Homo sapiens: one gene and its partner. The protein of the gene in region 1 purifies or fractionates together with the protein of each later gene. This does not show direct contact. Each region holds a gene or a part of one and is shown in the gene's direction. Other genes may lie near its edges.

Region 1 (3,500 bases):
GTCCAGTGGGCCAGGATGGAGGTCGGGGACAGCCCAGCTGCTGCTGGAAGTCCTCAGAGGCGGATGGCCGGCCCTGGCCAGTGTGGAAGAGGTCGGGTGGAGTGCTCCACACATTTGCCACAAGAGGCCTGTTCTGTGCTGCACCAGGCACTGGACCTCAGGCGCCACTGCCCAGTGGCCAGGGTCAGGTTTCTCAGAGACAGCTGAAGGCAGCGGGGCGAGAGCAGCCAGTCTGGAGGTTCTGTCCCTCTTTTCTGAGCAACACATTCAGGAAGTTTCTATCCCCTGATTACCTTAAAAAATATGTATGTGTGGGCCAGGTGAGGTGGCTCACGCCTGTAATCCCAGCACTCTGGGAGGCCGAGGTGGGTGGATCACCTGAGGTCGGGAATTCGAGACCAGCCTGGTCAACATGGTGAAACCCCATCTCCAGTAAAAACGCAAAAATTAGCCGGGCATGGTGGCGTGTGCCTGTAATCCCAGCTACTTGGGAAGCTGAGGCAGGAGAATCGCTTGAACCTGGGAGGTGGAGGTTGCAGTGAGCTGAGATTGCCTCACTGCGCTGCAGGCTGGTCAACAGAGTGAGACTCCATATCAAATAGAAAAAAAAACCATATATATATATATATATATATATATTCATGTGTGTGTATATATATTCACATATATATATTGACGTATATTTTTAAAGCAGTTTTAGGTTTACAGCGAAATCTAGCAAAGAATACAAAGTGTCCCCACCTATCCCTTCTCACCTCCATCAGTGCCCCCCGGCTGTGTGGTAGAGTCGTGAGCCAACGCTGAGACATCATTATCTCCGCAAGCTCATAGTTTACATTAGGGGTTGCTCTTGCCGTTGGACATTCTGTGGCTCTGGATGGATGTAGAGTGACATGGACCCACCATTACAGTCACCTCTGGAGCAGCGTCACTGACCCCAGAATCCTCTTTCTGCTGCCTATGCATCCCTCCGTTTCCCCAAATCCCTGGCAACCACGGATCATTTTTTTGTTTTGTTTTTTTGGTTTTTGTTTTTGTTTTTTTTACTGTATCTGTGTTTTTGCCTTTTCCAGACTATCATCTAGTTGTGATCATAAAGTGTACAGTAGCGTTTTCAGATTGGCTTCTTCCACTCAATGATATACATTGAAGGCCCTTCCATGTCTTCTCAGGGCTTGGTAGCTCATTCCTTTTTTGACTGAATAATATTCCGTTGTCTGGATGTGCCAGTTTGTTGATCCATTCACCTGCTGAAGGACATCTTGGTTGCTTCCAAGTTTTGGCAGTTATGAATAAAGCTGCTGTGTACATCTACGTGTAGGTTTTTGTGTGGAGATAAGGTTTTAATTCATTTGAGCTCAATTGCTGGATCGTATGGTAAGAGTGTGTCTCGTTTTGGAAGAAACTGCCAAACTCTCTTCCAAAGTGGCTGTGCCACATTTATTCACCGGTGGCGAACGAGAGTCCTGGCTGCTCTGCATCCTCACCAGTATTTGGTGGTGTCAGTGTTCTGGATTTTGGAATTCTGTTAGGTGTATTGTGGTGTCTTGTTGCTGTTTCAATTCGCATTTCCCTGATGAGGTATGAAGTGGAGCATCTCTTCAGATGCTTATTTGCCATCTGTGTATCTTCTTCAGTGAAGTGTCTATTAAGGTCATTGGCTCATTTGTATTTTATTTATTTTTATTTTTATTTTATTTTTGAGATAGGGTCTCACTGTAGCCCAGGCTGGAGTGCAGTGGCACGATCCTGGCTCACTGCAGCCTCAATCTCCTGGGGCTCAAGTGATCCTCATGCCTCAGCTTCTGGAGTAGTTGGGACTACAGGCACATACCACCATGCCCAGCTAATTTTTCTATTTTTTGTAGAGATGGGGTCTCGCTATGTTACCCAGGCTGCTCTCAAACTCCTGGACTCAGGAGATCCACCTGCCTTGGCCTCCCAAAGTGCTAGGATTACATGCGTGAGCCACAGTGCCCGGCCTTGGCCTATTTTTAAATCTGCTTGTTTGTTTCCTTACTGTTGAGTTGGAAGTGTTCTTCATATATTTTGGATACAAGTCATGTGTTTTGCAAATATTTTCTCCCAGCCAGCGGCTTGTCTTCCCTGTCTCTTGATCCTGATATCTCCTAAGCATTTGATGTAGAGTTAATGATTAATGAGCAAGATATTGAGACCTCATCAACTAGATCTAAAGAAATCACTAGGCCAGACACATAATCCCAGCACTTTGGGAGGCTGAGGCAGGTGGATCACCTAAGGCCAGGAGTTTGAGACCAGCCTGGCCAACGTGGGGAAACCCGGTCTCTACTAAAAATAGAAAAATTAGCCAGGCGTGGTGGCTCACGCCTGTAATCCCAGCACTTTGGGAGGCTGAAGCGGCAGATCACCTGAGGTCAGGAGTTTGAGACCAGCCTGGCCAACGTGGTGAAACCCCATCTCTACTAAAAATACAAAAATTAGCCGGGCGTGGTGGCACACACCTGTAATCCCAGCTACTCAGGAGGCTGAGGCAGGAGAATCACTCGAACCCGGGAAGCAGAGGTTGCAGTGAGCTGAGATCGCGCCACTGCACTCCAGCCTGGGAGACAAAGCGAGACTCTGCCTCAAAAAAAAAAAAGAAAAGAAAAGAAATCACTAGGTAGCTGCGACATTGAACTGAAGGTTGAAAGTATTAAGTTTCTTTGTGGACTTTAAATAACCTTCAGGAGAGAAATCTCAAAGCTCTAAACCAGCAACCGAGAATTTCCTTCAGGGCATCCATCTTTTACACGGAGCCATCAGTTGTGTAGATGATGGGTTGCCCCAAAACACTAAGACGCACCAGTGAAGGGAGGGGAGCTGTGGCAGGGGGGCCTGCACTGCCCCCGCCTTTCCCCCCAGCAACGCCTGGGCTGGGAGCTGGGGGTGGGTGAGACCCTGGCTCAGGCCCCACTCAGGACAGTTTGAGGGACAGGCAGATGGGGGGACTGAGCCATGGGGGTCTCACCACCCAGACTTGGGGTTTTGGGCCTCCCTGGAGGAAGTGGTCCTGGCTGAATGTCTAGGATGGATGTAAATTAGCCCAGGGAGGGGGAGGGGGCTCCTGAGGAGACCCCCAGGCAGGCTCCCAGTGGCTGAGCAACGGTGCAGCCTGTGGGCTGTGGCCAGCCCTGGTCGGGGGCTGGAGAGGTGAGCAGCCCTGGCGTCCCACAAACACAGGAGCTTGGAACCCTTGCTGGGGCTTGGCAGGGGTGGCCGATTTCAGTGGTGCTTTGGGGAGTGGGGAATGGACGGAATGGGGGAACGGCGGGGAGGCAGGCTGGCAGGAATGTGGCACGGGGCACAGGCAGTGCCCCGAGGAGGTGGCGTGGGTGGGCGCAGGCGTGGCTGTGATTTCCACGCTGTTTTCTAGCGGGCTGCAGCCCCTCTGATGCTGAAATGAAAAAGGACCCAGATCCTTGTTTGTGGGAGGGGTGGGAAAGGATTTGCAAGGAGTGTGGTCTCTTTTGGACGATTTT
Region 2 (3,500 bases), on another chromosome or scaffold:
TTGGAAGCTCACTATTTAAAAGAGGGCTGTGAATAATTATTTTTTCAGTAAAAAATGTTTTCTTCTCTTATTTGACAATATTGTAACCCAGATTTGGGGATCTAGGATGCACCTCTTACAGGGAGGTACACTAATGTTACTAGGGTGCTTGATCCAAAAGAGAGCTGGGGCTGGGGGGCAGGATCGATAATTGTGGGAGTCTCTGACTACACGATGCCATGTGTCAGTCCTTCTAGCTTTGCTTTTTTCTCCATGGTAGGAATCTCTTCTACCTGCTTTCCTAACTCTTCTGTAGTTCCTTTGCCTTGAGGGCTTTCAAGTCAGGGAAGCAGTAATCCCTGGTTTCTTTCCTGTCTTCTAGACTCTAATTCCTGCTCTGGGCTCTAATCTCTTTTTTTCCATACTCTAGTTTCTCTAAATGCCTTTTTCTTCTCTAAGAAGAAGAAGGTGTCCTAAAGCCACTGTGATTTATTTACCCTATTCTCTCCTCACGTCACAGTCGGGCTGTGAGACTGTTGCAGACATAGTCAAAGGAGAAAATAAAGTTATGAGTATATGTGTTAACTTACTTCCTTTTCCTCTGCTATAGAGCTGTACTTTGGAGCTGGTTCACCTGGCAGCTTAGTGTTCACATCAGCGGCTGCTTTATTAATAGCTTAACCGTTGTTCCCTTGCTGCTCATTACACCTGTGTTGGCTAACTTTGACTCCGGGAAGTGACTGGGCTTGAGGATTTCAGGGCTGAAGAATGACTTTAGGGAGCCAAAACCTCCGAAGGAGCATTACTGGGACTTCAACTGCTCCAGGGATGGGGCGAAGAGGGGCTACTGGCCGAGGTGCCTTTACGGTGCTCAGAGGACTGGTTTCAGGGCTTATGAAAGCAGAAATGGAGGGCCGGGTGTGGTGGCTCACGCCTGTAATCCCAGCACTTTGGGAGGCCGAGGAGGGTGGATCATGAGGTCAGGAGATCAAGACCATCCTGGCTAACATGGTGAAACCCCGTCTCTACTAAAAATACAAAAAAACTACAAAAAAAAAAAAAAAAAAAAAAAAAACTAGCCGGGCATGGTGGCGGGCGCCTGTAGTCCCAGCTACTCGGGAAGCTGAGGCAGGAGAATGGCTTGAACCCGGGAGGCGGAGCTTGCAGTGAGCCGAGATCGCGCCACTGCACTACAGCCTGGGTGACAAAGTGAGACTCCATCTCAGGGGGAAAAAAAAAAAGCAGAAATGGAGAAATCTACATGCTTTTTTTTTTTCTTTTTAATTTTTTTTTTTGAGTAGTTCTGGAACAGACAAATTCTTCCATGTACCTTTCCCTAAATACAAAAGCAATGTATGTTCATAAAAAATTCAAACTACAGAAAGGATTTAGAAAGCGAAAAGTAAAAGACTCCTGTTTCTTCCAAATTTGATTCTTTTAGACATCTTATTCTGGTATATCCTATTAATAAAGGTAGGTTCATATTGTTCATATTCTGTTCAGCTGCCATTTCCTTTTTTATTTTTTTAAATAAGTTACTGTCTTGTGGACATCCTTTTAATGTTGATAAATGCAGATTTACCTCATTCTGCATTGTATGGATATGCCAGCTTTCCACGGATAGGTATTTAAATTGTTTCCAGTTTTTCATCATCACAAAGAGTGCTGCAGTGACCATTCTTACACGTACACCTTTGCACATTTGTGACAGCAACTTTTCCTACAGAAATAATAGAAAAGATAGACACATTGGAAATGTTCATCAGTATTACTAATTTGCTCTCCTAAGAAGTTCTATATTGTAAGCTGTTTTCAATATTTTAAGATATTTGATGGAAATTGGGCAGCATCAACTATAGCCATAGTGGTTAACTGAAACATCAGCTTTCTTAGTGTTTGACCGTAGTTATACGAACTTGGTTATTTCATGCCTGTCAACTGGCAGGAGATAATCAGCAGTTCTGACTTCTGATGAATAAAGATAAAATGTCACTAATGAAACATGCTTTATGGGCAGCATATTTCTAAATATTAGGCCTCTTTAGAGCCAATAAAAGAAGACGTCCTGGGTCCTGAAAAGGCTGGGAACCATTGCTCTCCTAGACCATCCTTCAGGATTAGAATGGAGAGCAAGTTGTGTTTACCGTGAGGGAACCTTTGTCAAGTGCTGACATGAGGCACAGGAGCTGGCAGCTGGGACTGAATGGGCAGTCATGAGATCAGGAGACTGGTCAGAACCCTGACCTTGACTGTCTATTGTGGGACCATGGGCAAAGCTCTTAATTTCTCCAGGCTTGAGTTTTTCCATTTACACGAGGGAAGTTATCAAGTCCTCATTTTTTTTGTAAATCTTTTTTTTAAAATACATTTATTTATTTATTTTGAGACCGGGTTATGAGACTGGCTAATTTTTATATTTTTAGTAGAGATAGTGTTTCACCATGTTGCCAAGGCTGGTCTCAAACTCCTGGGTTCAGGCGATCCACCCAACTTGGCCTCCCAAAGTGAGGATTACAGGCATAAGCCACTGCGCCCAGCCTCAAGTCTTCATTTTATCTAAGCAAGTTTATGAAAGGAAAATGAGTTTAAGTTTAAGAAAAGGAGTTGAACCTGGCTTAAAGAAGGTGGAAGAGAATTTCAGGATTGAAACAGTTTTCCATTGTCTATCAAGAGATGGGTTACATTGTCTCTGAAATTAATCAGGTGGCAGTGGCAGGTGGTTTTGTTTTTTAACAGGCAGGACAGAATGTTCCTACTTTTGCCAGTGTGGTAATTTGAGATAGGAAGTGTGGTTTAGTTTTGTACTCCAGAAAATGAGAAGCCCTGGTTGTAGCAGGTGTGCTTAAGTGTATTCTGGACAGAGGCGAGAGGTGCGTTGCTGGAGGGCTCTTGGGAGGTCCCAGTGGATGCAGTTTTTTGTTGTTGTTGTTCTTAGCATTCTCTGTCCACATGGGTAAACAAGAGCAGCTGGTTCCCTGGTTGCCTTCAGAGCAGCTCCCAAGTATCAGTTCATTTTAAACTTTAGGGAGGGTAATAGGACCTTCGGGGGAAGTGCCTAATGGGCTGGAAGGTGCGGACAAAGCAGGCCTAGAAGTGCAGGTAATGAGCCAAATCATGGGGGATTGAGAGCAGGCATTGAGCCGAGCTGGAGAAAGTGAAGACTCAGGGGATTTTACTACTTAAACCTGAGACAGCTGATCCCATGCAGAGGCTATCTGCTTGTTAGGGGCCAGTGATCAGGGATTAATGCCAGCTGAGGCTTCAGGGTACAGTTTGCTTGCCTTTAAGCTCCCTATTTGAACACAGATGAAAATCACTTATGTTGCTCCTTTACCTACCTTGGAGGGGCTCCTGCTGAGACTCAGGAATTTTCCATGTGTGCAGTGGGTAAAGGACTAAAAGCCAAGCCCTCTGACCCCAGGTCTGGGCCTCCATTTCTCCCTCCTCACCACTAGGGTCACTCTGAGTACTTCTTGCCAAACACCCTTAGGAAACTTTTCCTTCCGAGGGTGGTTCTCTAC

Evidence for each region. Proteins that work in one complex are often made in the same cells at the same time.
Region 2: the proteins of PARVB (region 1) and PFKFB2 fractionate together in Homo sapiens (co-fractionation; one large-scale study listed by BioGRID). This does not show direct contact.

What each region holds. Positions count from the first base shown.
Region 1 is NC_000022.11:44,027,302-44,030,801, forward strand, and holds part of PARVB (beta-parvin), read left to right. Parts: intron 1-3,500. UniProt on the Homo sapiens protein: Adapter protein that plays a role in integrin signaling via ILK and in activation of the GTPases CDC42 and RAC1 by guanine exchange factors, such as ARHGEF6. Is involved in the reorganization of the actin cytoskeleton and formation of lamellipodia.
Region 2 is NC_000001.11:207,056,275-207,059,774, forward strand, and holds part of PFKFB2 (6-phosphofructo-2-kinase/fructose-2,6-bisphosphatase 2), read left to right. Parts: intron 1-3,500. UniProt on the Homo sapiens protein: Synthesis and degradation of fructose 2,6-bisphosphate.